Homo sapiens: one gene and its partner. The protein of the gene in region 1 interacts with the protein of each later gene in a biochemical or structural test. Each region holds a gene or a part of one and is shown in the gene's direction. Other genes may lie near its edges. The genes, in order: HLCS and ACACB.

Region 1 (16,086 bases):
TTTTTCAGATTTCTCAAACAGCCTGATGAGGGCAACGCTTTAGTTTTTGGTTTTTGTTGTTGTTTATTTATTTATTTTAATTGAGACAGGGTCTCACTCTGTCACCCACGCTGGAGTGCAGTGGCACTATCTCGGCTCACTGCAACCTCCACCTTCCAGTCTTAAGCAATCCTCACACCTCAGCCTCCCGAGTAGCTGGGACCATAGGTACACACCACCACCCCTGGCTCTTTTGTTGTATTTTTAGTAGAGATGGGGTTTCACCATGTGGCCCAGGCTGGTCTTGAAGTCCTGAGCTCAAGCAGTCTGCCTGCTTCAGCTTCCCAAAGTTCTGGGATTATAGGCATGAGCCACTGCACCTGGTCATGTTTACTTATGTATTTATTTTTTTGAGACAGAGTCTCACTTTGTCACCAAGCTGGAGTGCAGTGGCGCCATCTCGGCTCACTGCAATCTCCGCCTCCAGGGTTCAAGCAATTCCCCTGCCTCAGCCTCCTGAGTAGCTGGGACTACAGGTGTGCACCATCACACACAGCTAGTTTTTGTGTTGTTAGTAGAGATGGAGTTTCACCATGTTGGCCAGGATGGTCTCAATCTCTTGACCTTGTGATCCGCCCGCCTCAGCCTCCCAAAGTGTTGGGATTACAGGCGTGAGCCACCACGCCCAGCTGCATGTTTGTTTTTTGTTTGAAGCACTGGATGAGATTTGATTGTTGGACTGGATTGAAGTTGTTCATCTGCATTTTCTGTTGAAAAGGGTTATTTGGGGACCTAAAAACCTTTCTCATTTCCTACTTCTGTTTACCAGACTCTGTGCTCTAACAGAACTATCCTTTATCCACTGTTGACCACATACAATGTGCAGATCCACTTGGGGCCATCTTCCCCCAGCTATTAGGACCCGTGTGCCTGCTTCCTTATTACTGTTGGATGTTTTGTTGTCAGTTATTAAAAAGACAAGCAACAGGGAACAATTAGCTCAGTGACCGAAGCATTTTCTTCCCTACTTGGGCTTCACTTCCCATAGCCCCCTCCCAAATGTTCCTGGAAGAATTTCATATGGGTATAAATAGGAGATTCCTGCCTCCCTCCCCCAGCAGCTCCTATGTCAGGCTAAAGAGAAATGATTGGATTGATTCCTGAAGCAAGATGTTAAGAGCGTGACTCTCAAAGGAGACTTGGAGGTCCTGTCATCATTTCATTGAAGAAAAGGTCCTTCTCACTGCCCCTTAAATCCCTCTGTGATGTATTTGCTGTGTATGAATTTTTGGTATTCCACAGATGTAGTTAATGCTGACGTCTCTGTTTCCTGTATTACATCACATCGCTGAAACGGACGCTTACTACCAGGCACCCAGCATCCTTGCATATCTGATGGTTTGGGGGCATCACACCATTACAGGGCTTCAGGTGCCCGGCCTTGAGCACCTGAGCTGTGCATTCTGTCTAGCAGGAAGCAATCAAAATAGAAAGTCCTGGCCAGGCGCGGTGGCTCATGCCTGTAATCCCAGCACTTTGGGAGGTTGAGGAGGGCAGGAGTTTGAGACCAGCCTGGCCAACATGGTGAAACCCCATCTCTACTAAAAACACAAAAAGTAGCCAGACATGGTGATGGGTGCCTGTAATCTCAGCTACTCGGGAGGCTGAGGCACAAGAATCGCTTGAACTCGGGAGGCAGAGGTTGCGGTGAGCCGAGATTGTGCCATTGCACTCCAGCCTGGACGACAGAGTGAGACTCGTATCAAAAAAAGGAAGAAAGAAAGTCCTGTCATGGGAGAAATTAACTCTAGCAACAAGTTAGTCTTAGGAAAATAACTAAAACAAACACTAAGCCGAGAACATTAAATGAGTCTGTTTGGTCTGTTTAGCTTTTTCATGGCTCTGACTTTGACCTTGGAGCCCCACTAGTTCCCTTAGCGAGCATTCTTTGAGGGCCTGCTGTGCTCAGAGGCTGCGTGCGCCAGGCGCTGGAGGCCAGGATGGAAGTGGGAAGCTTGCCTTCAGCGGTGAACGGGGTCGGGGGAATTTGTGTTCCCGTTCTCCTTAAGAAGCTTGTACCAATGTTCTTTCCCTCTTCTGCAGTCAGCTACCCAGCCTCACCTGTGTGATGGGACATTTGATTTTGAATTGGGTTTCTTTTTTAACATAGTCAAGTTAGCTGACACAGTGCAGCTACTTTGATTGAAATAGGCCCCTGTTGTTTGGATTTCACTTTTTGTGTGGCCTTCACTAGGACCCCAACTGGTCCCTAACCAGATGTCACCGTCAGCACACAAATCATGACCACCCTCCCCAGACCCAAGGCGGCCTCGCTGGGATGCAGGCATTCCTTCCGGAACTCGCCTTGGGCCGCCCATTCTCACTCCTGCTCTTTCTTCTGTCCATGAAGTCCCCCCGGGCCCCGCACCCTCCCTCCACCCACACACCCCTACCCCTGCTCTCTTCTCTGCTTCTTAAAATTCTGTTCATCCTTAAGGCCCAGCTCCAGTGCCATTCTCAGACCCTCCAGCTACTTCCAGCTCTTTCCTCCAGCACTGTCCAGCACTTGCCATGTTGAAGCCTCTTTTAGGGTATCCACCACGTGTGGCTTTGAAGAGGAGTGATGTGTGCACCTGTTCCGTCTCCCATGATGTTAGCAGCTCTTCAAAAGCAGGATTTGTTTCATTTTGGTCTTTTTTTATGTGGGAGGATCACAGCAGCTGTTGGAATAAATGATTGAGAAAATGAAAAATGAGCACACAGTCCTCCTCTTCATGTGGAAATGCTGGTCCTGTTTACCTGCGTGAGAACCCAGAGTTTCATGAGCTGCTTCATGAGCCGAGGAGATCTGAAGCCATGAAGGCGAGCTGGAGCCCAAGTGCAGGGCCCGCCCAGGCACCAGCTGCCACGCACGTGGCGGAGGAGCTTGACAGCTCTGGGAACTCTGCAGGTGTCCTCCCGCCGGCGAGGCAGGGGCTCATTCCCCTGGCCATGTGGTGGGCACAGGGGGATGTGGGAAGGCGAGAGAGGGGAAGGAAAGGGAACTGGGGGCAGTGATGAAGAGCAGAGCCTCCTAGACACAGGTTTCCTAGAGGAGACTTTCTCAGCCCAGTGCTATTGATATGTGGGCCCTGGCATGTTTGTCGTGGGGATGTCCTGTGCCTTAAAGGATGTGTGTCAGCATTGCGGCCTCTACTCTCTAGACGCCGGTAGCACTCCCTCAGGCTGTGACAACCAGGGAAGTCTCCCAGTATCGCCAAATCCACCCCTCTCCCACTGAGAACCCCCGTTCTAGAGAGAAAAGAAACGTGAAGCTGTTGATCAGTTCTGGGTCATTGCGCACCCCCCATGCTTGGTTTACTTAGACTTTTTGTTCTCCTGTGCTCCTATTCCTGTATTTTTTCTCTCAGCCTAAACTACTGTTTTAGGGCAGATGAGCTTCCAATATGCTCTAACGGGCCGAAGTCAAAAGAAGGCCTGTTGGAAGGAGGAAGGGATTTCATGGAAGCAACAGGCCGCGTAGCATAGGATTCCTCACCCAGGCCTGGTGGCAGAAAGGTTTGAATTTTAGCTCCGTGGCTTTCAAGTGCTATAACCTCAGGCAAGCCACATAATTTCTCTAAGCTTCCGTTTCTCCCTCTGTTCCCTGGGGATGCGCTAGCACCAACACATAGGCTGGGTGTGAGTAACACGTAGACTAATGCTGAGAAGGTGCTTGGTGCCATGCCCGGCCTGCAACGTGGGAAGACCAGCCCCGTGGCCCTTGGAGGCCATCAGCTACTCTCTGCTCCCTTAGCTTTATTTTGCTGAATGTTCTCTTCCAGCCTTGCATCTCCAGACAGGCTTCCTTTACCCACACATGGCACAGCCTGGCTGCCAGCCCGAGGTCTAAAAGACCTGGTGGTTCTGACACCCACTCGGCTAGCCCCGTCTCTGTGTCCCAACTTCAGAGTCACAGTGGATAGGCAGAGGCCTGGGTGGCCTTGTTCGAGACACTGTCCAGTGTTGGTCCATTCTGTAAGCTGATGACAGGGAGAGCCCCCCCACCCCCAGGCCACACCATTCAAGACGCAGAGGCAATAGGCCACATGACAAGTCCAGTTCCATTACCCAAGATGACCATTAGCAGTTCTGCGAGGCTTTCGCTAAGGTGAATTTCTCCTCTGCATCTTCACAGCATTCTTTTTTTTTTTTTTTTGAGACAGAGTCTCGCCCTGTCACCTGGGCTGGAGTGCAGTGGCACGATCTCGGCTCGCTGCAACCTCCGCCTCCCGGGTTCGCACAATTCTCCTGCCTCAGCCTCTCAAGTAGCTGGGATTACAGATGCACACCACCACACCCAGCTAATTTTTTGTATTTTTAGCAGAGATGGGGTTTCACTATGTTGGCCAGACTGGTCTCGAACTCCTGACCTTGTGATCCGCCCGCCTCAGCCTCCCAAAGTGCTGGGATTACAGGTGTGAGCCAGCGCGCCTGGCCACTGCCTGCTACTCAAGACATTTCTACCTGCCTTTTGTGACCTTGGTTAATTCAGGGCCATCTTTGTCTCTCAAGCATGGGTTCCTGAAGGGAGACGCCCCCTGAGATTACTATTCTCTCCCCACCCTCTGGCCCTAGCACGTTAGTTAGCTACTCCATGGTGGTGGTGGTGGTGGATACTGACATAATGAACTTCATTTACAAGGTAAGCATCTTCAGAAAGGGTTTTGGATGATGAGAAACAGTGCTGGGGGATGGGGAAGAATGCTGGGGTTTATGTCAACTGTGTTCTTCAGGGCTTTTACCTCCTGGCCCCAAGAGGCACTTCAATATCGGATTGTCCCAAAGAAGTGATTAGCTGCCTGAAAAAGAGGAGAGGACGAGGCCCATGTTACCTTGGTTTCTGCTTATCTTCCCTTAGCTCAGTGACTTGCCTGGGCCCCTTGTGTCCTGTGACGGCTTAATTAATGTGCAGATTTCCCTTTAGGATATCAACTTACGAGTGAAGTGGCCCAACGATATTTATTACAGTGACCTCATGAAGATCGGCGGAGTTCTGGTTAACTCAACACTCATGGGAGAAACATTTTATATACTTATTGGTAAGTTTCAAAAACCTTTCCCCCAGCATTTTTAGATTAATAAAACAATAAAAATAAAGACGGTTTATGCATGCCTACATTGGCAGGAGCAGATTATCATATGAGGTTACTTTGAGTCTTGTAGTTTTGGAGCAGGGTATAGATGCAGAGAGATTGGTCGAAAGCACTTCACAGGGTTTAGCATTTTCTGTGTGTGACCACGGGAACCACCAAAGTGGTATCACATCAAACAGGTATGTTCCTACATCCTTCCACACTCCTGCTACTCATTGAATTTGAAATGGTGAAAATAAACATTTAACGTTCTATTCTGTAATAAGAAAAAGAAAAGTTAATTTCCTAAATAGTTCTCCTGGTGTCTTGCATTCTTATCGTGACCTTCCTGGGCCATGAAAGAGCTGGCATCATTTTAACCTTCAGAAGAAGCTCCATGCTGGTCAAGGCGGGGTAAAGAATCCCTGTTTCACCTTAGCACATCCAAATCAGGCAAGAAGATGGATTCAGAGGCAATCTCAGAAGTCCTTAGGTTCCTGGCCGTCCAGTCATCAGCCTCACTCTGTGGCAGTAGAACCTAATCTGTGTTCAGAAACCAGCAATGGTCAAAAAACATGTAACCATGTGTTTCAAGTGCCAGCCAGGGAATACAAGGCCTGTGTTACCAGCTCTGCCACCAAGGGGCAATATTATTCTAGGCAAGCTACTTCATACCCTTAAAGCTCCATTTCCTATCTTTTTTTTTTTTTGAAATGGAGTCCAGCACTGTTGCCCGGGCTGGAATGCAGTGGTGCAATCTCGGCTCACTGCAGCCTCCGCCTCCCAGGTTCAAGTGATTCTCCTTGCCTCAGCCTCCCAAGTAGCTGGGAGAACAGGTGCCCGCCACCACACCCAGCTAATTTTTTTGTATTTTTAGTAGACACAGGGTTTCACTATGTTGGCCAGGCTGGTATCAAACTCCTGAACTCATGATCCGCCCGCCTCGGCCTCCCAGAGTGCTGGCATTACAGACGTGAGCCACTTGCCCAGTCTCCCCCATTTCCTATCTTTAAGTGAGTAATTGCAGTTGATGCAGAGATTCCTAGGTAGGGGCCACAAGCAGGCTCATGGATGGCTTCAGGGAGCTAACAAATGTTATCAGCGTGGGGTAAGCGAAGGCCAGGCGTAGTGGCTTGAGCTCATAATCCCAGCTACTTGCGAGACTGAGGCAGGTAGATCACTTGAGCCCAGGAGTTCAAGGCTACAGTGAGCTTTGATCGAGCCACTCCACTCCATTCTGGATGACAGAGTGAGACCCTGTTTCAAAAATAAAACATAAAAAATAGGCCAGGTGTGGTGGCTCAATGCCTGTAATCCCAGCACTTCAGGAGCCTGAGGTGGGTGGATTGCTTGAGTCCAGGAGATCGAGACCAGCCTGAGTGACATGGCGAAACCCTGTCTCCACTAAAAATACAAAAAATTAGCTGGGCGTGGTGGTGCCTGCCTGTAGTCCTAGCTACTCAGGAGGCTGAGATGGGAAAATCACCTGAGCTCAGGAGGTTGAGGCTGCAGTGCGCTATGAGGGCTCCACTGCACTCCAGTCTGGGCAACTGGAGTGAGACCCCGTCTCCAAAAAATAAATAAATAAAAATAAAAAATAAAGTAGGGGAATGAAACATTTTCCTATGGTGAGAACCCATAGCTTTTATTGAATTCTGAAGGCCATAGGATGGGGTCTCTGACTTTGGGGATTCAGAGCAGCCAGCAGGGTGCTCACCGGTCCTTAGAAGGACATAGCCTAAGTGGCCAGTAGTGAGTGTTGCTACTCCTCCTAGGAATTCCAGTTTTCTGAACACGGGAGAATTTTCAGTGCTGTACAGCACTTGATTTAATGCCTTACGAACGTTCAGTAGGTGCTTCAGATCCTGTATGTATTGAATGAATGAATACGTGAGCAACTGCAAGTCCTGCCCCTGTTGCTGTAGTTACTTGTTTTTTTTCCAGAGGTAATTGACAATTGCTTTGTATTTTAATAGCCAGTATATTGTTTTAAAATCTGAGACCAGTCAATCCTTCCCTTCACACTGGAAACGGCAGGACACTTGCCGGGAAGGCTGTTGTTACAAATGGCATTGTTCTGCCTGTGGCGAATGTTTTGGGGATTTTTTTTCTTAAAGTCACTGAAAACATGGTAGTTTTCTTACTGCTTAGTTTTTGCAGTATTTCATTTCTTACTGAAGACCTCTCGCAGGCCGATTCAGGGCCCTGCTGAACACTGAAGTCCAGCTTTTCTGAAGACACCGCCCTCTGCCTGGAGAGGATAGTGGTGTTAAGTAACTGCACAGATAAGCCTATTCAGACACCATCCCTGGTAACTCTCATGAAGCCTTGGTTTAGGACCCTGCAAAAAGCCACTGAACATGAGTCGGCGTCTTGCCAACAGCGTAACCTTAGCACCAAAGACTTCCAAGAATAAAGTATTAAAAGATGCATTTCTAGGGTTATGCCATGACCAAGGTTTGAAATCTCTGAGTCCAGAGTTTACTTCCCAAGTCCTGAATAAAACTCTATTTTCAAGCGTGGGATCTGTTATTCAAGCAGGAGAAGAAACCAGAGATTTTATTCTCTCCTGGACTCAGTGCAGAGCTACAATGCTTGGTAGACCACTTATTTCAGAGGCAACACTGATACGTTTTGTCCCATATTTAATAGCTTCTATTGAATTAAATTGAATCAAATGTGGCTTTCTTTTTTCCCACCTTTTTATTTGCAGTAAGGTTGAGATGGTTTTAGCTTGAACAAGAATAATAAAAGAAGGACAAAAAGGAAGATGGACAGAAATACATGTCACTCTTCAAGTGGTTAGAGACACGAAATCTGAAATGAGGACAAGGAAGGAGGAAGTTGACAGTCAAGACTGTAACTTTTTCCATGTGGCAGAGAGGAATGTGTGATGCCATCAACAGGCTGAGCTGCTCAATTGTTTGTTTTTGTCCAGGCTGTGGATTTAATGTGACTAACAGTAACCCTACCATCTGCATCAACGACCTCATCACAGAATACAATAAACAACACAAGGCAGAACTGAAGCCCTTAAGAGCCGATTATCTCATCGCCAGAGTCGTGACTGTGCTGGAGAAACTGATCAAAGAGTTTCAGGACAAAGGGCCCAACAGCGTCCTTCCCCTTTATTACCGATACTGGGTCCACAGGTCAGTGCTGGCTCATCTTCATTCTTTTCAACTCCTTTATTAGTATCTTAGTAGTTCTGTATCTTTTTTTTTTTTTTTTTTTTTTTTTTTTGAGACGGAGTCTCACTCTGTCGCCCAGGCTGGAGTGCAGTGGCACGATCTTGGCTCACTGCAAGCTCCGCCTCCCGGGTTCACGCCATTCTCCTGCCTCAGTCTCTCGTCTCAGTCACCTGAGTAGCTGGGACTACAGGTGCCCGCCGCCACACCCGGCTAATTTTTTGTATTTTTAGTGGAGGTGGGGTTTCACCGTGTTAGCCAGGATGGTCTCGATCTCCTGACCTTGTGATCTGCCCGCCTTGGCCTCCCAAAGTGCTGGGATTACAGGTGTGAGCCACCGCGCCCGGCCGTAGTTCAGTATCTTAAAATGAGGGACCGAGCACTGGTCTGAATGATTATTTTCTGTGTCTCTGTTAGAGAAACTGCAGGGACACCACCTTGACCAAGTTAGCATCACAAGTAATGGAGCAAACGGGCATCTTATGCCTCCTGGTGGGATGCGATGGGAAGAACCGAAATAGTGAGAGAGTTTAACATTGGTTTAATCTGATTCTAATTGTGAGGAAACAATAGACGCATCTAAATTGTCAAACCTTCCAGGTAACAGTGGTTCTCAAAGTGAGATCCCAGGAAGCAGCCTCAGCCTCAACCAGGGGCTACTGCATCAGAAACCCCTGGGCTGGGCCCAGCACCCTGTGTCATAACAGATACTCCAGGGATTCTCATGCAGCTGAAGTCCGAGGACCGCTCACTGATTCCACAACAACAGGCCTGTGCCCTGCAAAAATGTCAGGTCTGCGCACAAACAATTAGACCAAAAGAAGGTGGCAGAATTGTTTGGGATTAGAGAAGACGAAAGAGGCATGACATCTAAATGTAATGTGTGTGATCCTGGATGGAGGGAAATAGCCACAAAGGATATTAAAAGGACAGTGGGAATGACGTGAACATGGACCGTTTGTATCCAGACTTTCTTGAGTGGTCATAGTTAATGCTATTATAATTTTATGGGAGGTTCTTGTTCTCAGGAGATAAAGTATTTAAGCAGAAAGTGTCACAATGCCTGCAGCTTTTAAAAAACTTTTTTTATTTTCACTTTTTTTTTTTTTAGAGAGGGTCTTGCTCTGTCACTGGAGTGCAGTGGTGCCATCATAGCTCACTACTGAAACCTTGAACTCCCGGGCTCAAATGATCCTCCTGCCTCAGCCTCCCAAGTAGCTGAGACAATAGGAGTGTGCCACACGGCCCGCTAATTTAAAAAAAAATTTTTTTGTAGAGGCAGGGTCTCACTATATTGCCCAGGCTGGTCTTGAACTCCTGGCCTCAAGCAATCCTCCCACCTTGGCCTCCCAAAGTGCTAAGGTTACAAACATGAGCTACCACACCCAGCTGCAACTTATCTTTATATGTTGCAGGAAAAAAAAATGTGTGCTTGTGTGTGTTTATGTGTGAAGAAAGAAAGCAAATACAGAAAATATTTTCATTTGGTGTGAGAATGGAAGAGAATATGAGGTTTGTTGCACTATTCTTTCAGCTTTTCTTTAGATTTAAAATTCTTCAAAATAAAAACTTGAGAAAATTCTATACTTCGAAAGCTGTTAAGAAGGACGTGACTTGAGTACATTTGGAAAATATTCAAAAGAAGTAGGATCAGGATGAGTTTCACTTGTGGCTGATATGAGCCAACTTTGTTTTATAAGATAAAACATTGTTTGCCAACTCGGCCTATTTTCCTCCAATCTCAGCCAAAAAACCTAGAGTTGCACAGTGTTTCTTAAAAGCGCTGGGAGGTGAGGAAGTGGTTCCAGCCATCACCGCAGATGACCAGAATTAGGAGGAGTGACGTTGTGTGAAGAAATTTCGACTCCTTGTTGAACTTGCATCCTGCTGGTTATTTGAGCAGTTCTTAAAACCATTCACCAGGGTGGAAGAAAGTCAGAGCTCAGCCCAGGCTGCCTTTTCCCTGCAGCGAGCCTCAGCCCTCTCCCCAGCACGCCCAGCTCTCTCATCATGGATTATTCTTCAGCTCATTGTCTTAAGTCGTCCTGTGACACCTCCCAGTGACCGCACGCTGTTCTTCCTTTTCAGTGGTCAGCAAGTCCATCTGGGCAGCGCAGAGGGACCAAAGGTGTCCATCGTTGGCCTGGACGATTCTGGCTTCCTCCAGGTTCACCAGGAGGGCGGCGAGGTTGTGACTGTGCACCCGGACGGCAACTCCTTCGACATGCTGAGAAACCTCATCCTCCCCAAACGGCGGTAATGCCGGGCGTCCCCGAGACGCGGCTGCCTGTCCGTGCCCATGCATCTGGAAATCTAATTTAGAGTTGTAGGTGAATTTTCTTTTCCTCCAATTCATTTGTTAAGTCTTTGTTCTTTTTCTGTGTTTCTGTTTGTTTTTAGGTTTGTTTTGTTGTCGTTTTCTTTGGTGTTTGAAGAGGCTCTGGGATAGATGGTTAAGAAGTAGAAAATTTAGTTTAGGGAAAGCCCTCCCACAGGTGGGAAATTGCTCTCCCCTCTGTGGCTTGGACTTACGTTTATTGTCAAGGGGAGTTTTTACATGGAAATGACAATGGGAAAATTCAGATATTTTCTTAGTAGTGCAGACCTTTACCCCTAGTCTATGAAAAAACAAACCAAAATATGCTCTTGCGCCCAGGCCAGTGGTGAGTTAGAGGTATGCTATCACTGTTTGTAAGCATCTGGGGAGGTACTGAACTGTAAGAACATGCTTGGACACTTAGTCATTGTTCTGTGTTTTTATTAATGAAGAAAAGGGAAGACAGACTTCCAAGAGTTACTGTCCACCCGGTGGTGTGGCCCCATAGCGAAGTCTAAATGCCTGTAGAGATAGAGCTAGCTGGTGTGGTTGCAGTGACCTTGTAGAGGAAATCAGTTCATTACTTTGACATCATTCAGTGAGCTCTCCTTTCCTAAGGAAGTTTAAATGTCCTTAGTTAGGGACTGACTTTCTTAAGTAAGTTTAAATTTACTACATATTGTGAAGAGACAGGATCAAGTTCAGAATCCTTAAATGTCTGATTAGGCATCACTTGGATGAGGAGGTGGGCGATTTGGCTCTGACAGCTGGAGATGAAGGCACACTCATACCACATACAAGGGAGGATTTGGAGCTTTTAAGCCAGTTTCAGATTTACTCTGAAATGTGGAGCATTCCTGCAAGACTGTGCAGCTCACGGAATATAGAAGACATGGCATTTTACTCAGAAGTCATAAGTTTTTGCCCCCCTCATTTACCTCGTATTACCAAGAAAGAAAATGTTATCGATACTAAACACCATCAGTTCAGAGGGAGGATGTGTGTGTGTGCCCGCATATGTGTGTGCGTGCGTGTGTGCGCACATAGCTTTAAAAGAAGACATTCAAAATTTGATGTGCTACAAGCCTCATGAAAGAACAAAAGAAATGAAGCCTTTTGATATGCATTCGCTATTCCCAGATGTACGCCATGCCTTTTCCATGTCCCTCCTATCTCTGTTGAACTTATGAATCATACTCATTACTTTTCAGCTTTTTAAAAGGCCAATTTTTGTCCAGTTTTCTCTCTTCCAGTCCCAGCTGAAATTAGTGGAAAGAAAGTTTGATGGAGCTTTCAGCTTTGAACAAAATCCCTTCATTGTAAACTAGCACCATCTTTATCCAGGTCTTACCCAGTCAGGCTAATTCCAGAAACTTGTGGTTTTTAGTATAGTCTGTCTACCTTTAGCCAGGCACAGGACAGCCCTATGAAAAAATACCCAATATATATTTTTTGGAAATGAAACATTAAAAGAACTTAAAAAGTAATTTTTGGAAATGAGGCTTCAATTAGAATTATTTTTCTCAAAAAACAAACAAACAAAAAACACAAAAAAAACCACTCTTCTCCAAATGCCCAAGCCTTCTTTCAAAATTAGTTAGAAACTTAAGTAAAATACAAGTCCACACCATCCCCAAATTACAAAATGGACTTACCCTTGAGAGGGCATCTGCAGAATATCATCAGGGACAAAGATCTCGAGGCTAACGATGTAGGTTTCATTTCTCAGACTTTGTAATATAAGGCAAGCCCTCTCTCAGAGCTGCCATCATCACTTTTTGAATTTCTTTGGGGGTTATTTAATGAAAAACATGCTATGTTTTGTTTTAAGCTGAAGTCCTATTCTGGACACTCTGCTTTGGGAAAAAATGTTATCATTTAATTTCCTTTCTGCAAATTAAAACTAATGAAGTGTGGCCTTGTCAAAGGCTATGGAGATGTTCCGGGCATACTGCTGTGCTCTGTGCTTTCCAGCAGGCGCTCCTCCCTCACGCAGGAGACTCAGTTGTCCTGAGAGAGATGAAGCAGCCTTGAAGCAGATGCTGCGTTTTCCATAAACCTGATTTTGCCTCACATGAACCAAAGACTCTCAAAACTCCGCTTCTATAGAATTAGCTGAATAAAGGCATTTTACTGATAGCTGTTCGTGTTAGCGAAACCTGTCTACCTGCTATAGCACACTCTCCGATTTGGGCCATTTATGCACCCCGCAACCTGGGATCTCAAGGAGCTTTAAAGTCTTAATGGGAACTTGGCATTTTCCTGATGATCTTTAAAATGTGGTCACTAAACTCAGGATTGGCGTGTGCTTTTAGAACACTGGAGTAGCCCTTGTTTTAGAGGCTGTGCATTGAGTATCGACCGTATTTTGTAAAAGGCAAGATATCCTCCCTTCCAGGCTGGTAACGGGTTTCAAGGGGACTCTTGAGGAAGTGCCCCCTAAAATAGAACACAGCAATAACTGGGCTTCCTGTCCCCACCCCCACCCCAGCAGTGCTCTCTGGCACTGGGAACTCTGCTAGGGAGTGGTGGAAGTAGGAAGGATTTGTGTGCAAAGGAAAATCGTGGTTGAGTTTCACTGCAGCAGGCTGACGTTGCCTGATGTGAGAGCAAGTGGCCGACTGGGGTGCGGGTGCACAGGTCGGGGGAGCACAGGCCACAGAGCGCAGCCTCTGGGGGTCCCCCAAGGCACAGCATATACAGCATGGTCGCCCCTTGCCCTGGAGTCTGGGAACAAAGAGAGGAGCCAGCCTCCCCGCACTGCTTCAGATGGAAAAGGGAGGCAGGGTGGGCTTCCGTTCTCCAGATCTGTTTGCTCTTAACAGGCAGAACATGGGAGAATCCTTATTCCTGGTTAATCACTATGCATATTTGAAATAAAAGAAAGCGTAAGCCTCTGCAATTTTAACTTCTCAAAGGATGTCTCTGAAAAGAATCACTTTAAACCAATGCCTATAAAAAGCAAGTCTACCAAAATAAACTAAGACTTTCTATGTGGTTTGGGCTCCCTCTTATTTTTACAAGTTTCATTTTTAAAAGTAGGCAACTACTTTGGGTTACAGTATTTTTATTCATATTTAAACATTTTTACAAAATAAATAAAGTGTTTTACATAGTAAGGAATATGTACGTATTTCCAAGTATTAAGAAGCCAAGTGTTTTTTTTTTTGACGTATTATTGACAAATGTATTCAGCGCCATACACAAGAGAAATATTATTACTCCAAAGAACGAAAGTTAACAAAACTCCAAAGCAAAAACCCTTTTAATGGAGGTGAGAAATAAATTTAATGTAACAACAGCTAGATTGTTTTTAGGATTTTTCTTTTCTTTTGTGGAAACTTCTTGACTTGACTTTTCATCTGAACAGTTTTTCCCCCCAAGATTTTAATCTTATATGTCATACTTAAGTTTAGGAACAGCTTGAATAATTAGCATTCTAGATAACACAAGGGCCATGATTCACTAAAATTCCAAGCTACTGTAATTTTATGGCATTTATTTGCAAATGTTCTTTGTATCTCATTTTATCTGTAGCAGTCCCCACTAGTCTACCTTAACCATCTTATAGCTCTGGTAAATTAAAACTTACGTAGACTTTATACAAGATCCATTGGCCGTATTAAACCTCCCCCACTCTTAGGGCTTAGGGCGGAAGGGACGAAGGCAGGGCTGATAGGACTTTTAAAAGGATAAAAGGAGTGGGGGCAAGGGAGGCGGAAAATACAGGCTCTTGCAGATACCCTCCGCGCTGCCCTCCACACCCAGCCCACTGCTCTACAAAGGTATGAATGGAATGGCTTTTCTAGAAAAGGGCTTCCAAGAACATAAAGGAATTCCTTTCCCTGGGAGGCCCCGTGGAGGGCTGAGCCAGCCTTGAATTGGGCTTATTTCTCAAATCCATTTGATCTGGCATTTTTGTCAACATGGTACATGTTAGGGCCTACGATGATTTTTTTTTCTTTTTTGTAAAAGAGAGGCATATGTATTAAAATGCTTCCTCTTCCCCTGCCGGAGCCTCACAGAAGTCAAGAAACGCTATCCCCAGCTTAAATGTGCAGACTCTTCAAGATGGAGGTCACAATATTAGGTTGCCACAGTAACAGCTCTGCTGACTTCACACTCAGCCCTGGCCGTCCTGAAGCCAGCTCGTGTAAGAATCTTCCTTCATGTTCTAGGTTATGAAAACGAAGTTTGTTTAGACAAGGACGTTTTCACTAGTACACATTTTCAAGTACATACACACTCTGTTACGCCTGTCCACGTTGTCACTTGTAAATCTATGATAGGGTCTTTTTTCTCAACAGTAACCTTTGTTATTGAACTGCTCCGATAGCCTTGATTTATTTTTACTAAATACAGCCCCAAAAGTTAATAACAAGGTAGACACAAAAGCATTTTGCAGTACTTTATTGAAAAATGTCGGTGGTATCTCCTAGTAATCAAACCTACACCTTTCAAGAATCACGGTTTAATTACAAGACTCATGAACATAAAAAAATAATACCCTCGGCTTATTTCCTGTGCACACACTCACAAGGAGCTGTGAATGAGGTATAGCTGAGTGCGTGGAGAGGCGGGCACATCCCTTCCTACCATCCAGCCCCTTCGCTGCATGACCCACGGTCCTAAATTTGCAAATTGTGACTCTTACCATGAGGCCCACTGACAGACACCCTGTAGGGATTGTGTCAGGTCCTCACTAAGTGACACAGGGTTGGCAAAAAAAAAAAAAAAAAAGTCAGTTCACATTTTGAGAGCAGTTGGTGTAGGTGCACTTGATTTTAGAACGATGAGTTTAAAACATTTGTGAAAACCTCTTTCCATTCAGAAAGGTGGAAAAAGTTTCCTAAAATAAACCATTTTGATAAAGCAGCAAAATGCTGCAGTGTTGATAGTGTGAAGAAAATTGAAGGACGGCGGTTCAATGCATTGTGCAGTTCAGAGCCATGACAGGATTTTTCCATGTTGAGATCTTTAAGCAAAACCCATAAAAAGTAAAAATTAATGGAAGCTCATTTTTTAAACACTGCTGGTGCTTTATGAAAGGATTTCTGTTTACCTGTTGCACACGTAACATGTTCTTACGAAGTTTTCTCGCTGTGTAGAAAATGCTTAAAATGTCTACATCATTTTCATTACACCCCCTTAAGCATGTTTTTCCTTCACAAGGTGCAGTCCATTGACAGTGTTCCGTATTGCACGTGCAATTTAACTTTATTAGCACTATTTGTAGCAAACACGAGCCTAGTGAATTACAGATCTGTGTGGGCCAGAGGGATTTTGCCACGTAATAATGAAGCTTGACAGGGTCATTCTCATAAACTGTCTGGCTACATATATATTTTTGCATTTAATGCCTATTCAATATATTCTGAAGGTGCTACTCTTGGTGTTATCAAGAGTTCATAGGGGTTAGGGGGAAGTAAGAGCTTGTTAATGTATTTGGGAAGCACACCTATGTTCACAGACACAAAATGGAATTGCA
Region 2 (16,086 bases), on another chromosome or scaffold:
CAACAAGAACAAAACTCCATCTCAAAAAAAAAAAAAAAAAAAAGAAGAATGCAGCCACACCCATTCATTTACATGTTGTCCACAGCTACGTCCGTGCTAACAGCAGAATTGAGTAGTTGCAGCCAAGATGATATGTCCCACAAAGCCTAAAATATTTACTACCTATCTCTTACAGAAGTTTATCAACCCCTGCTCTAGAGTTTAGAGTGGATTTTGTGTAACTAGTAACACTCTGAAATATGAGCAAATTTGCTCTTAACTGCTGCTTAGAAATCTTTTTTTTTTTTTAATTGAGGAAGGATTTTTCTCTGTTGCCCAGGCTGAAGTGCAGTGGTGCTATCATAGCTCATTGCAGCCTCAACATCCTGTGCTCAAGCAATCCTCCCACCTCAGCCTCCCGAGTAGCTGGGACTACAGGCGCCTGCCACCATGCCTGGCTAGTTTTTGTATTTTTAGTAGACATGGGGATTTGCCATGTTGCCCAGACTGGTCTCGAACTCCTGGGTTCGAGTGACCTACCTGCCCTGGCCTTCCAAAATGCTGGATTGCAGGCCTGAGCCACTGCACCCGGCCTGCTTACAGATAGATATTTTAGAGGTCATTTCTGGTACCTGTTCCCCGTGAGTGCCCTCAGCTTTTGAGCACACTCTGCAGTGGCCCCTGAGAGAATGTCCGTGTGTTTCTGCCTTGTCAGGTTTACGTGCGGAGGGGCTACATCGCCTATGAGTTAAACAGCCTGCAGCACCGGCAGCTCCCGGACGGCACCTGCGTGGTAGAATTCCAGTTCATGCTGCCGTCCTCCCACCCAAACCGGTATGGAGTGGGACACACCCAGGGACGGCCTGTGTTTCTGTTCTTCCTGACCTCTGTCGTCCTGTCTCTGGAAGGACCTGGCAAGTGTGTTTGGGCACGCTGCTGGGGAGACATCAGCGATAAGCACTTCCCCTGTGGGAGCTCCCTGCAGCGCCATTTTCTCCCCTCTAACATGGTGATAATGCAGAGCCCACCTCCTACACCTGCACTGTTCAGTACAGTAGCCATGTGTGCCTATTTACATTAAAATGAATGCACATGGGCCAGGCGCGGTGGCTCATGCCTGTAATCCCAGCACTTTGGGGGGCCGAGGCGGGCAGATCACTTGAGGTCAGGAGTTCCAGACCAGCCTGGCCAACATGGTGAAACCCCATCTCTACTAAAAATACAAAAATTAGCCGGGCGTGGTGGCACATGCCTGTAATCCCAGCTACTGGGGAGGCTGAGGCAGGAGGATCACTTGAACCCGGGAGGCAGAGTGAGTCAGTGAGCTGAGATTGCCCCACTGCACTCCAGCCTGGGCGAAGAAGCGAGACTCCGTCTCAAAAAAAAAAAAAAAAAGAGGCCAAACACAGTAGTGGCTCACACCTGTAATCTCAGCACTTTGGGAGGCTGAGGTGGGTGGATCACAAGGTCAGGGGTTCGAGACCAGCCTGGCCAACATGGTGAAACCCTATCTCTACTAAAAAAAATACAAAAATTAGCCTGGCATGGTGGTGTGCACTGGTAATCCCAGGTACCCGGGAGGCTGAGGGAGAACTGCTCGAACCCGGGAGGCAGAGGTTGCAGTGAGCTGAGATTGCACCACTACACGCCAGCCTGGGTGACAGAGCAAGAGTCCATCTCAAAAAAAAAAAAGAGAAAAAACAAAGAATGCAAATGAGCCAGCCATGGTGGCCCACACCTGTAATCCTAGCACTTCGGAGGGCTGAAGGGGGCAGATCAGGAACTTGAGGCCTGGAGTTTGACACCAGCCCGGCCAACTTGGTGAAACCCCATCTCTACTAAAAATATAAAAATTTGCCAGGCGTGGTGGCACACCCCTGTAATCCCAGGTTACTCGGGAGGCTGAGGGATGAGAATCTCTTAAACCTGGGAGGCAGAGGTTGCAGTGAGCCAAGATTGTGCCACTGCACTCCAGCCTGGGTGACAGAGCGAAACTCTGTCTCAAAAAAAAAAAAAAAAAAAATTCAGCTTCTCAGTCATACTGGGTGGCTCATGGCTGCCATATTATTTGACAGTGGAGTTCTAGAACATTCTGTCATGGTAGAAAGTTCTAGTAGACAATGCCACCCAAGCCATTGGGAAGAGTCATGAGATAAGGCACATGTAGCATTTTAGACAGTGCCTGGCACAAAGGAAGTTGTTGACTGTAAGTGATCCCGGAGATGATCATGACTAACGCTGTTATTACCATCTAGTGGCATGCCATTGGCCTGGGCACTCTGCTCAGTGCTCCCACACTCTTTTATTTATTTATTTTTTTTGAGATGGAGTCTCGCTCTGTTGCCCAGGCTGGAGTGCCAGTGGCACAATCTCAGCTCCCAGATTCAAGCGATTCTCCTGCCTCAGCCTCCCGAGTAGCTGGGACTACAGGCGCACACCACCATGCTCGGCTAATTTTTATATTTTTAGTAGAGATGGGGTTTCATCATGTCAGCCAGGCTGATCTTGAATGCCTGACCTCAGATGATCCACCCGCCTTGGCCTCCCAAAGTGCTGGGATTACAGGCGTGAGCCACCGTGCCCAGCCCACACTCTTATTTTATTCAGCTCTTATCCTCTATCGGCCAAAAATGTGTTCTCATCCTCGTTTTACAGATGGGAGCCCTGGGCCCTCACCTGACCTAGGCTGAGCTGCTTGTGCACGTGGAGTGGGAATTTGAGCCCAGGCCACACTCTCACCTCCAAGTCCTTTCCACAGCATTCAGGGGCCCTCTGAGCCAGGTGTGAGGGCACCTGTCCTGTCTGTGTCCACTGTAGTCTGCTGTCCAAGAGCTGTAGTTCAGTAGATACCCTCAGTGTTCTCACCTGAGAATATCTTTTTTTGATTTTTTTGAGATGGAGTCTCACTCTGTCACCCAGGCTGGAGTGCAACGGCGCGATCTCAGCTCACTGCAGCCTCCGCCTCCTGGGTTCAAGCGATTCTCCTGCCTCAGCCTCCTGAGTAGCTGGGACCACAGTCATGCACCACCAAGCCCCACTACTTTTTTTTGTAATTTTAGTAGAGATGGGGTTTCACTGCATTGACCAGGTTGGTCTGGAACTCCTAACCTCAAATGATCTGTCCACCTCAGCCTCCCAAAGTGATGGGATGACAGGCGCCACCATGCCTGGCTCACCTAAAAATATCTGATGTGTCTGAGTTCCTCACTCACAGTCTTTTTTTCAGTCCATCTTGTTTCAGGACCCAAAGTATTAATACCATTTAGGTCAGGTAGAGTGGGATACCTTCTCTTAAAGTAATTATGTCTCCTTGGGATTCGAAGTGTTCTCTCTCACGCTCCCTCACCCCTCTGGTTTTAGTTCTTATGGGGGTGCCCAAGGCCTTACCTACGGCGGCATTGATGTCATTGTGATTTGGGAGTTCGGTTGATCAGATCTGTACAGGCAATAGGGTTCATGCTTTGGTGAAGCGGGGATTTTTCTGGCCTCTTAGGATTTTTAAAATAACTTTCTTTTCCTGTTGGTTTTAAGAAGAAAGATGCTGCTATGTTTTGGATGAAGAAAAGGGGGCTTCCCCACGAGGCACTGCCTTTCCTAGTTATTTGTTTTTACCCTTCTTATTTCCAAAAATAGGATTGTGACATTTTACCCCATTGAGAGAAAGGGGACTGACTGCTTGCAGCCTGGGGTCATTCTGGGGATTTGGAGAGCAGTGGTGGTGTAAGATATTTTGTAGCTGTCTACTCCTGAGAAGGACTCTTTTGATTTTTTTGTTTGGTTGTTTAGAGACAGAGTCTAGTTCTGTCACCCAGGCTAGAGTGCAGTGGTGTGATCATAGCTCACTACAGCCTTGAACTCCTGGGCTCATGTGATCCTCCCACCTCAGCTCCCTGTGTAGCTGGGACCACAGGCTTGCGCCACCACACCTGGCTAATTCTTTAAAAATATTTTTTTGCAGAGATGGGGGTCTCACTATGTGGCCCAGGTTGGTCTTGAACTCCTGGGTTCAAGTGATCCTCCTGCCTCGGCCTCCCAAAGTGCTGATATTATAGGCGCGAGCCCCTGTGCCTGGCCTTCTCTTTTGATCTTATTGTCCCAGCAAGTCAGCCCTGTTAGGAAGGGAAGGGCGGCTCTCCTGAGGGCTGTGGGTCATGCCTTGTGAGCTACACGTATATCCAGGTTATTGGTTGTGATTTTCAGTATGGGCACAGGGTCCTTTTTTGACCCAGAGAGACATTGAGGACCCTGGGGGATTCCTGGCCATCTAAGATTCTCATGATTGCTCTCAGTGCCAGAAATGTACTCTGGGCCTGTGAAGAGACCTTGCCTGCGGCTGCCCCCACCAACCAGCCCTTTAATGCCTCTGTAAAGGGCCATGAGGAATAAAGTCTATCCCCAAGATGGCCTGGCTTGGCCCTCAACACTTGTGTGTGTAGAGCCAGGCACATGGTGCTTTAGGTCACCGAGACCCAAGGGAAGGTCAGATGAGAAGTTGGCAGGGCTTTGTGCCAGCTGCAGCCTGGACCTGGACCTCTGTGCTGGGTGGGAACTGGCTACATCCCCCTGCGATGGGGCTGCTGTCCTAGCTCTGCCCACTGTTGCCCTGCAGGAAACTGACCATCACAACCAGACTTCTCCATGATTTTTTCCAGCAGAAGCAGGAAATCTATTTTTTTTTAACCTGAAGTCCTTCCATTTTTCAATGGGGACAGGTAATTCATGTTAAATGAATACATGAACACATGTTAATTCATGTATGTTATTAAAATGCTGCATGGACCAAAGTCATTCTGTGAGTGGCATTCAGCCACACTGCCACTGCAAGTTTGTGACCCCTGGATTGAGCTGTCGGGGAGCAGAGGGGCCATGATCGTGATTTCAGAGCACCCAACAGGAATGCACACACCTGTGTCAGGGTCCCCAAAAGCACCCCCAGGTTCGATCATCGCCTAGGAGAACTCACAGGTCTCGGGACATAGTCATGCTTATAGCTCTGACTTATTAGGGGGCAAGGATACAAAGCAGTTAGCCAAGGCAGAAGGCATCAGGGTGAAGTCCAGAGGAAAGCAGGTGTGCTGCCAGGGTCCTCTCCCAGTGGATTCACGCAGGGTGCACTTCATTCCCCCAGCAAGGAGTTGTGACAACACAAGTGAAGGGTTGTCTTCCAGCCCCGCACCAGGGATTGGTGGCTGGTCACATCACCCTCTGCTCTGCATCGAAATCTCAGGCTTGCAGAAGAAAGCAGGTGTTCAGCATAAACCACACTGTTTGTGCAAACAGTTGAGGCACAGTGAGCCCCCCTTGTCACCTTCAGGGAACGATAGGAACCTTCCCCAAGTCCAAGTTCCCAGAGGCCAGCCAAGGGCTGTCCTTGCAAGCAAGCAGGTCTCCTTTCTCAGAAGAGCAGTGTGGGGCCTGCTGTGCTGACTTCCTGCACACCATTTCATTACCCCTCCCGTATCTGATTCCAAGGCCCAATTCTAACAACCTCAGGTGGCCCATTGAGATTTGCTGCTGGTGAGCAGCCAGTTCTGGGAGCATCGTTGTCTAAACTCCAGAAGGCTGCTGACTTTGTCCCAAGGGCAAGTTTGATGGAGGGATTACAGGGAGCAGAGGACTGGAGTGTCCGTCAGGACCAAGCCTGACTGCCTCACCAGCTGCCTGGGGCTGGTGGATTTCTCCAGGAGAAATTGATGCTGGGAGTGTTTCTTCTCTGTGGTCAAGTTCAGCACTTGGGGCTCCCCTCGGGACTGTGTTGAGACTGGACTCTCATGCATGAATCATTGATTCCTACACTTGTTGAGCTCTTACTCTTCACCAGGTCCTGAGGGATCAGATGAGACCCTCCTCAGGCCCCGGCCCCAGCCATTGTCTCATCCCCTGCCCATTTTAAGCCCCCATTTGGAAGAGCTCTAAATCTGGTCCAGCTCACTGAAGCTTCAGGAGTAGGAGCAGCTCGTAGAGTTGGGTCTGCAAGCAGCTGCCTCATCCCCGACTTGCCATCACCTTACAGGATGACCGTGCCCATCAGCATCACCAACCCTGACCTGCTGAGGCACAGCACAGAGCTCTTCATGGACAGCGGCTTCTCCCCACTGTGCCAGCGCATGGGAGCCATGGTAGCCTTCAGGAGATTCGAGGACTTCACCAGGTACCCAGCATGGCCCGGTCTCCAACACCCTGAGCATGGGGGCTGGGCAGACTTCCCTTGAATCCCCCCCCAATTCACTGGACAGATGGGGTGGGAGAGACCCAGACACGTGGCACAGCATGTCAATAACAACAGAATAATAATAGCATTGTAGCCAAGAGTATGAGCCTACATGTCAGCTTGCCTGGCACAGCACATCAATAACAACAGAATAATAAGAGCATCGTAGCCAAGAGTGTGAGCCTGCGTGTCAGCTTGCCTGGTTTGAATTCTGGCTATGTGCTTTCTAACTAAGAGACTGAGCAAAATATTTTTACCTCTCCATACCTTCGTTTTCTTATCTGTAAAATGGGAATAATAAAGGACTCACTTCATAGGTGCGCCATGAGAATTAAATGAGATAACATATGTGAAATAACATATTTAAAGTATAATTAGTATGCAGATAATATAGTGACTAAATGTTAGCTCTCAATAGTTACTGTTATAGTCTTTTTTCAGCCTTTCACTGTGTGTTCTGCTTTGTGCTTGGAGTATCTTGTGGAATTTTCACAACAGCCTCATGAGGCATAGGGATTACTCTTATTACCTTTCTTTGACTCGGGGTGAGGTGAGGTTTCTAGGATCTCCCAGCCAGTAAAAATGGGAGCCAAGAGTTGATCTCAAGCCCAGCTGATGCCTGAAAGCGCTGGAATCCTTCCCTGTATTCCTGATCACAGATCACTTAGGTTCATTCTTCCCTTTTGGGAAGGACCCCATCACGGGTGCTCTGGACAAAGTAGACAGGGAACCTCCTGAGCTCTGTAGAGTTGGATAAGATCAAAGGGTGTTGGCTGGGAAATTGGGAGGGTCTGGCGTTCCCTGCTGCCTGGCTTGGAAGCTTGACCTCATCCCCATGGGTCAGCAGCCCCTCAGCCCTCCCTCTCTACCCGCACCCCCAGAAATTTTGATGAAGTCATCTCTTGCTTCGCCAACGTGCCCAAAGACACCCCCCTCTTCAGCGAGGCCCGCACCTCCCTATACTCCGAGGATGACTGCAAGGTAAGCGTCTAAGCCCAGGGAGCAACCTGGGGAGCAGGTGGGCCGTGGCCCCCAGGCTTTCCAGCCCTACCCCTTGCTTCTCCCTCTCAGAGCCTCAGAGAAGAGCCCATCCACATTCTGAATGTGTCCATCCAGTGTGCAGACCACCTGGAGGATGAGGCACTGGTGCCGATTTTACGGACATTCGTACAGTCCAAGGTACTCTGGGCGTGCCTCTGGTTTTGGTGGGGGTTCTTGGAGAAGGAGGAGGGGCTGGGCTCGTCGAGGCGGCCCTTGGGGAGGCAGGCGTGCTGAGTACTTCAGAGCCACAGACCTGGCTTCCCACTCTAGCTCTGCTCGCCTCATAGCTGGCGACCTTGGGCAGATGTGGCTGAACGTGGGGTCAGCATTTCTCTCGCTCACGGTGTTGCAATGATTCAATGACAAAGTATATACACGGCTTAGCCAGTCCCAGGTACGGAGGGCACACCCAATAAATAGTTTGGAGATTTTCTGGGAGTGTTTTTGTTGGAATAATCCAGAAACTGGCAGTTTTAAAATGGCTACTTACATTGATGACCAAGTGTGCCAATAACAGCAGGTTGCTCTGTAAGCCTGTGATGCCATTGTATTTCAGCCTGGGGGACAGAGCGAGACCCTGTCTCAAAAAAAATTATATATATTTACAGTATACAATGTGATATTTTTTAATTATCTTTTTAATAACAGCTTTATTGAGACATCATTGACATACTACACAATTCACCCATTTAAAGTGTGCAGTTTTGCAGCCATAAAAAAGAATGAGATCATGTCCTTTGCGGGGACATGGATGAAGCTGGAAGCCATCATCCTCAGCAAACTAACACAAGAACAGAAAACCAAACACCGCATGTGCTCACTCATAAGTGGGAGCTGAACATTGAGAACACATGGGCAGAGGGAGGGTAACAACGCACACCGGGGCCTGTCGGGGGGTGGGGGCCGAGGGGAGGGAACTTAGAGGACAGGTCGGTAGGTGCAGCAAACCACCATGGCACATATATACCTGTGTAACAAGCCTGCACGTTCTGCACATGTATCCTGTTTTTTTTTTTAGAAGAAATAAGAAAAAAAGTGTACAATTTAATATATTTTTAGTATATTCACCAGGTTGTACAACCATCACCAGAATCAATTTTAGGACATTCTCATCACTCCATAGAAAAACCCTGTACCTGTTAGCAGTCACTCCCCTCTGTCCCCAACCCAAAAACCCTCTCCCCACCACAGCCCTAGGCAACCACTAATCTACTTTCTCTCTATATAGATTTGCCTATTCTGGACGTTTCATATAAATGGAATCAGATCACAGGAGGTCTCTTATGATTGACATCTTCCACTTAGCATAATGTTTACAGGTTCATCCGTGTGGTAACATGCAGCAATACTTCAGTTCCTTTTACGGCCAAATAATATTCCATTGTGTCTTTGGTTTTTAATGCAGAAAAATATCCTTGTGGATTATGGACTCCGACGAATCACATTCTTGATTGCCCAAGAGGTTAGTTCACAGTTCATCTCTATGAGTCTTTCCCATTCTCCAAGCCTTGGTGTGTGCCATTTATTTGATATTTATTTTGTAGATTTGGGTGAAAGAGATCATTAGAAAGGAGAAGGATTTCCAAATGATTCATTCTAGAAGTGAATGTAATCGTTTACAATCACTAAATAAGGATGTACATATTTCAGTGCGTCTTGCTTGATTTAATTGTCTTGTGTGTGGATTTCTTTTTGCAGAAAGAATTTCCCAAGTTTTTCACATTCAGAGCAAGAGATGAGGTATGGCCAAAAGTAATGATGTTTTCTCTTCTCTAGCATCTTGTTTTATTTTTTAAGAGATGGGATGGGGCCGGGTGTGGTGGCTCAAGCCCGTAATCCTAGCACTTTGGGAGGCTGAGGCAGGAGGTTTGCTTGAGCTCAGGAGTTCTAGACCAGCCTGGGTTATATAGTGAGACCCTGTCTCTACAAAAAAATTAAAAAATCAGCCTGGCATTGTGATGCAAGCCTGTGGTCCCAGCTACTTGGGAGGCTGAGGTGGGAGGATTGCTTGAACCTGGGAAATAGAGGTTTCAGTGAGCCAAGGTGATTCCACTGCACTCTAGCCTGGGTGACAGAGTGAGACTCTGTCTCAAAAAAAAGGAAAAAAAAGAGATGGGGTCTCACTATGTTGCCCAGGCTGGACTCGAACTTATGGCTCAAGCGATTCTCTTGCTTCAGCCTCCCGAATAGCTGGGACTATAGGCACATGCCACCGTGCCTCCCAGCTCCCTGGCATCTTTGATATTCATGAAGAATATAGTCTGCAGTCCTTAAGGCATCCCCATATTCAAGAATGTAGCAACTTTTGTGTAGACTGCAGTCTTCCTCTGGGATTGTATTTCCATTGAGAGCCCTCTGTTCCCTGCATGGCACTCAGACCTGAGAATCTTGCCCTTTCAGCCTCACTACAGGTTTCTGTCTTGCTTGAATAATTTTCAGTACTTGCTGATGTACTCAGTAAGACATTTTTTCCAAACTGTTTTTCTTATGCTCGTCTAGAACAGTGGTTGGCAAACTCACTTGCAGACCAGCTGCCTGTTTTTACGAATAAAGTTTTATTGGAACACAGCCACACCCGTTGGATTCCACATTGTCTACTCTGGCTTTCACTCTAACAGTAGCAGAATTGAGTAGTTGTGACAGAGCCCGTATGATCCATCAGCCTAAAACATTTACTCTCTGGCCATTTAAGAAAACGTTTACCGATCCCTGTTGTAGAACAGGTAGGTTTATTCCCAGCACTGATTCAAGACCCCACCAAATTCAGCATTTTGCATTTTAATTTATCCAAAGCTTTATTTTTCTAGCTAAGACACATCCTTTTCTTAATGTCTTCATTTTTTTTTTCAGTTTAGTTTCCAGTACTGTCAGTTGCTTTCTTTTCGGGGACCAATTTCCACCAAGAAACCAGGGGTTAGTGGCTTCATGAGAATTGCCACAGGCTGTGACAGATGGAGAACAGCCTGGTCACGCTGGCAGGTGATAGGGACTAGCTAGGTTCCCCCAGGAGCCAGCGCTGCACCCAGCACAACAGGCTTGCAATGCCCATAGCTCTCCTCAGATCTTAGCAAAACCCCAAATATCTGGAGCCCTGGGGGTAGCTTACAATTAGGGAACATCATGAATGCTGCATTCCTGAGTGCCAAACCCATGGACACCAGGGGTCTGCAGAGTAGGGTGTGGACCAAGCAGGGACGCAGCTCCAACGTCACGCTGTGTGTGTATGTGTCTGTCTTCTCTCTCTGGTCCGCCTACAGTTTGCAGAAGATCGCATTTACCGTCACTTGGAACCTGCCCTGGCCTTCCAGCTGGAACTTAACCGGATGCGTAACTTCGATCTGACCGCCGTGCCCTGTGCCAACCACAAGATGCACCTTTACCTGGGTGCTGCCAAGGTGAAGGAAGGTGTGGAAGTGACGGACCATAGGTTCTTCATCCGCGCCATCATCAGGCACTCTGACCTGATCACAAAGGTAAGATGTCGCAGAGCATTTCTTCCTCTCTCAGAACCTGGCCCTCCCTTCCTTACATTCCTGCTCTGTGCTGGGTCCTGGGCTGCATGCTGGGGATGGAGAGTACACCAACACCCAGGGTCCTGCCCTTGCTATGCTCCAGTCCAGGGCAGGAGGCGGACAGCAAAGTGGCCTGTGATCACGTCCAGGCTGGTGGCACTTGGATCTGTTTCTTGTATTATGTGGGTCTCTGCGCATGAGAAGAAAATTTCCAGGATAGAAAAATACTGGTTTGTTCAGGGAATTTCTTAATATTTGCTGACTGAGTGATCGTTTTCCATTGTTTCTTGCATTTAGAAAAGTAATCCATGGCCGGGTGCAGTGACCCATGCCTGTAATCCCAGTACTTTGGGAGGCTGAGGTGGGCGGATCACTTGAGGTCAGGGGTTCAAAACCAGCCTGGCCAACATGGTGAAACCCTGTGTCTACTAAAAATACAAAAATTACCTGGGCGTGGTGGCGTACACCTGTAATTCCAGCTACTCAGGAGGCCGAGGCATGAGAATCGCTTGAACCTGAGAGGCGGAGGTTGCAGTGAGCTGAGATGGAGCCCTTGTACTTCAGCCTGGGGGATAGAGTGAGACCCTATCACAAAAAAAAAAAAAAAAGAAAAAAAGAAACAGAAGTAATCCATGATTATATTGTGAAAATTTTAAATAAGACTGAAAACGATTTTTAAGAACCTAGCGCAAGGACCGAGAATCCTGTCACTGAGGGGCCAGCTTAGTTGTTGACTGTTTCTAGACACAATTCCGTCCCTGAAACCTAGAGTTGTAGGCATAAGTTGCAGATAAGAGCTGAGAGTGGACAGATCATTTGAATATATTATTCTTTAATTGGTCAGTCACTTGTGGACCTCTTTCATTGTTAATAAAGAGTGGTCCACCACATATTATTTCCTTGCATGGATGTACCGTGTATAATTTTTTTTTTTTTTTTACTAATCCCCTATTGATGGAAACATATATATATTATTATATATATAATTATATATAATAATATATATAATATATTATATAATATAACATATAATATACATAATATAATATATAATATGTTATATAACATTATATATACATAATATAATACATATTATATGTATTTATATAAATATATATTTATATAAATGTATATATAATTATTATATATATATATTTTTTTGGAGATGGAGTTTTGCTCTTGTTGCCCAGGCTGGAGTGCAATGGCACAATCTCAGTTCACTGCAACCTCCGCACCCCCGGGTTCAAACAATTCTCCTGCCTCAGCCTTCTGAGTAGCTAGGACTACAGGCACACCCCACCATGCCCAGCTAATTTTGTATTTTTAGTAGAGATGGGGTTTCTCCATGTTGGTCAGGCTGGTCTGAAACTGCCGACCTCAGGTGATCTGCCCACTTCGGCCTCCCAAAGTGCTGGGATTACAGGCGTGAGCCACCACGCCTGGCCCTATTGATGGATATTAAGCTAACTGCAGTTTTTTTGCTACCTGTCAGCTAGATGTTTTATTTTTATTTTGATACAGAGATTTGCTCTTGTCACCCAGGCTGGAGTGCAGTGGCGTGATCTTGGCTCACTACCACCTCTGCCTCCCGGGTTCAAGCGATTCTCCTGCGTCAGCTTCCTAAGTAGCTGGGATTATAGGCGCCCACCACCATGCCCAGCTAATTTTTGTATTTTTAGTAGAGACGGAGTTTCACCATGTTGGCCAGGCTGGTCTCGAACTCCTGACAACTGATCCACCCATCTCGGCCTCCCAAAGTGCTGGGATTATAGGCGTGAGCCACTGTGCCTGGCCAAGCCGTTTTAATAGGTTTTATTATTGTTGAGGTATGGTGAGGCCAACAGATAAGGAGACAACTGCCATCAAAAAGACAGTTTATTACTCATAGTTCCCAAGAAGAAGGGGTTTTCCCTGCCATGGGGCCACATGGGGAGGCTCTGGGGTTGGTCAGGCAGCAGAGGGACAGAGGGGAAGACATGGAAGACGTGGACGAGAGCCTTGATTGTGGTTTCCTGGAGAAGAAAAAAGTGAGGCTGAGTAAACAGGTTTAGGATTGGCTGTGAATCATCTCAGCAGACCCTGGCATATAGAAGCTGTCTCTGGTTCTCAGGAATCTGGCCCTGGGTGATTAGAGCAGGTGGTTTGTGTCCCCAGGTATGATCCAGGGTCAGCAAGGCCCCAGGTGTCAAAGTGTCAGAATGCAGAAAATAGGACACATGTCAATACACTCAACAGCTTTGCAGTCCCTTCGCCTCTGAGAGGCAGGGCTCTGCTGTTCTTGCCTGGCACACTTTTTGGAGGAGGGGAATGTTTTCCTCCTGTCTCTGCCTCTTTGGGGCTGAGTTTCCAGCCAGCTGGGAGTAGGCCTGCACCCCTGGCCTGAGCAGCTGCCCCTCCCACTCTTTGGCAGGAAGCCTCCTTCGAATACCTGCAGAACGAGGGTGAGCGGCTGCTCCTGGAGGCCATGGACGAGCTGGAGGTGGCGTTCAATAACACCAGCGTGCGCACCGACTGCAACCACATCTTCCTCAACTTCGTGCCCACTGTCATCATGGACCCCTTCAAGGTCTCGCCTTTGCAGGGGGGCTCTCACCGGGCTCTGGGTTCACCCTCTGAGCCATGCTGCTTTGGGGTATTGTCTCTTGCCACTCAAGACCTGGGTTCCAGGATGAAACCATGCGTATCTGAGCCTCAGTTGCTGCGGGAGGAGAGCAAACCTTCTGCCATTCAATTCTAGAGCTATGTTTTAGCCATGCCCTGCACGGGAATGCTTTACTTTAAGGATGACAAGCATGCTCAAAATGTCTTTCAAAACAAAATTTTGTCCTTTCCCTGGTTCCAGGCTGCGCTGGGGACTGCATGTGGGTGGGGAGAGACGTGAGACCGTGAGGTCTGTGGCTGAATGTTCCCTGTCAGGTGGCTCTTCACGAGCAGACAGACTTTTATGGTGGTGATTCTGGAATGAAAGAAGCCCCACTTGTAATCCCAGTACTTTGGGAGGCTGAGGTGGGTAGATTGCTTGAGCCCAGGAATTTGAGACAAGCCTGGGCAACATGGAGAGACCCTATCTCTACTAAAAATTTTAAAAATTAAAAAATAAAATATTAAGATTATTAATCAAATTAATATTAATATCGATATATTAATATTATTAAAATATATAAATGTATTTTATTTTATTATTTAATAATATATATTATTAAAAATAATTAATACAATAGTATTATTAAAAAGAGAAGTCCTGATACATCCGTTTGGTATCTGGGGGATTCAGGGGACCCATGTGGAGGCTCTGGCCTCACTAGTTCAGGTAGTTCCAGAAGGAAGCAGTGCAATGGCTTGAGTCAAAGGCATGTAAAGATAGTATAACATAGCAGTACTAGTTCAGTCACTTATCAGCCTCAGTTTCCTTATCTGTCAGTGAGGGATTAGAAAAGCTCGCCTCTCTTGAGTACTTACGAAGGCAAAATGAGGTAGAGTTTTAAATGCTTAGCAAGAGCCGTTGCTTGTTATTAGTTAATACTTTTTGTTGGATACACACTATGTCCCAGGCGTTTTTGCAGTCAGTATATCTCATCCTCTTATTAGTATCAGTGCTATTGCAAATGTCCTTGGGATGTCTTGGCCCTGAAACTGGAATTGCTGTGTTTTGGGGCAGATCGAGGAGTCCGTGCGCTACATGGTTATGCGCTACGGCAGCCGGCTGTGGAAACTCCGTGTGCTACAGGCTGAGGTCAAGATCAACATCCGCCAGACCACCACCGGCAGTGCCGTTCCCATCCGCCTGTTCATCACCAATGAGTCGGGCTACTACCTGGACATCAGCCTCTACAAAGAAGTGACTGACTCCAGATCTGGAAATGTAAGGCTGGCCCGCGCCGTGGGGGTCTAAGTCAAAGCAGAAGCAGGCTGCTTGGGCCATCAATTTGTAGATTAAGATGGCATTTGGAGGCGGTCTTGCCTTGCTCTCCCATGTCATTCTGGGTTGGGGTAGCCCCCTCTGAGTGTTATGTTAAATGTGTTAGCCTTTGAATCTTGGTTTTTCACTCACCTAAAAAGGAGAGTGAATCTCCAAGTTTAATCCATTCTGTGGCCATGTTGGATTTTTGATAGAGACAAGGTGTCACCATATTGGCCAGGCTGGTCTCGAATTCCTGACTTCAAGTGATCTGCCCGCCTCGACCTCCAAAGTGCTGGGATTATAGGCGTGAGCCACCACGCCTGGCCATATGGCCATATTTGGGATAAGTTGTGCACTACTGTGGTTGACTGTAATGCAGTCCTCAGATTGGTTCACTTAGGGAAATACTTTCCCAACCATGTTCTAGGACAGACTTTTGTAAAGTGAATTAAATGTTCTTTTGACTGCCATTTAAATTCCTATGTGTGTACATAAAAATATACATATATATACACGCCATTTTTTAAAGAGATATTGCCTAGACTGGGCCTGAACTCCTGGGTTCAAGCAATCTTCTGGCCTCAGCCTCCCAAGTAGCTGGGACTACAGGCACATGCCATTGTGCCTGGTCTATGCACTTTTTATTTTGGAGTAATTGAAGACTGAAGACTCTCAAGCAGTTGCAAAATTAGTACAGAAGAAAAAAAATAGTGCAGAGGATTTTCACCCAGTTTCCCCCAATGGTAATGTTGATTGAACTTCACCATTGCACATCATTAAAACAGGAAATTGACATTGGCACAGGACTGTTCGCACCAACACTGACCACGTTCGGATTTCACCAGCGTTTCCATGCATGCCTGTTGTTGGGAGTGTGTGATGCCTTGATCACTGTATTTTTGGAACTGCATTCCACAGCCCCTGTTGTCCCTTCTTGTTCTGGCCCTCCACAGTGGTGAAGAAGGGAGTTTTACGTAGCCCAGGCACTCACTTTGTCATGCCATGTGACATGCTTTGCTTCCCCCACCTGCATTTTCATTGAGGACTGGGCAGAAATAAATTGGGGGAGATGTGTGATTCTCTCTCACTCTCTGTTTTCCCTCCTTTCTGGTCCAGATCATGTTTCACTCCTTCGGCAACAAGCAAGGGCCCCAGCACGGGATGCTGATCAATACTCCCTACGTCACCAAGGATCTGCTCCAGGCCAAGCGATTCCAGGCCCAGACCCTGGGAACCACCTACATCTATGACTTCCCGGAAATGTTCAGGCAGGCAAGTCCGGCGGCTCAGACGCGGTACCCCCTGGGTCCTCCCAGCAGACTCCACCAGAACCAAAGCCCATCCTTAATTCTCCTTCTAAAGACCTAGTCTAAAGGACAAGGTCTTGCCAGGTGCGGTGGCTCACGCCTATAATCCCAGCACTTCGGGAGGCCGAGGAGGGA

The links.
Region 2: the proteins of HLCS (region 1) and ACACB are reported together in a solved structure, tested with the Homo sapiens proteins (one study listed by BioGRID and IntAct).

The regions. Positions count from the first base shown.
Region 1 is NC_000021.9:36,748,701-36,764,786, reverse strand, and holds part of HLCS (biotin--protein ligase), read left to right. Parts: intron 1-4,945; coding exon 4,946-5,060; intron 5,061-7,806; coding exon of another isoform or gene 7,807-7,826; exon of another isoform or gene 7,827-8,031; coding exon 8,032-8,245; intron 8,246-10,369; coding exon 10,370-10,541; 3' UTR 10,542-16,086. UniProt on the Homo sapiens protein: Biotin--protein ligase catalyzing the biotinylation of the 4 biotin-dependent carboxylases acetyl-CoA-carboxylase, pyruvate carboxylase, propionyl-CoA carboxylase, and methylcrotonyl-CoA carboxylase.
Region 2 is NC_000012.12:109,226,677-109,242,762, forward strand, and holds part of ACACB (acetyl-CoA carboxylase 2), read left to right. Parts: intron 1-694; coding exon 695-813; intron 814-5,992; coding exon 5,993-6,130; intron 6,131-7,071; coding exon 7,072-7,171; intron 7,172-7,261; coding exon 7,262-7,369; intron 7,370-8,636; coding exon 8,637-8,693; intron 8,694-8,929; coding exon 8,930-8,971; intron 8,972-10,488; coding exon 10,489-10,704; intron 10,705-13,153; coding exon 13,154-13,309; intron 13,310-14,401; coding exon 14,402-14,605; intron 14,606-15,760; coding exon 15,761-15,916; intron 15,917-16,086. UniProt on the Homo sapiens protein: Mitochondrial enzyme that catalyzes the carboxylation of acetyl-CoA to malonyl-CoA and plays a central role in fatty acid metabolism.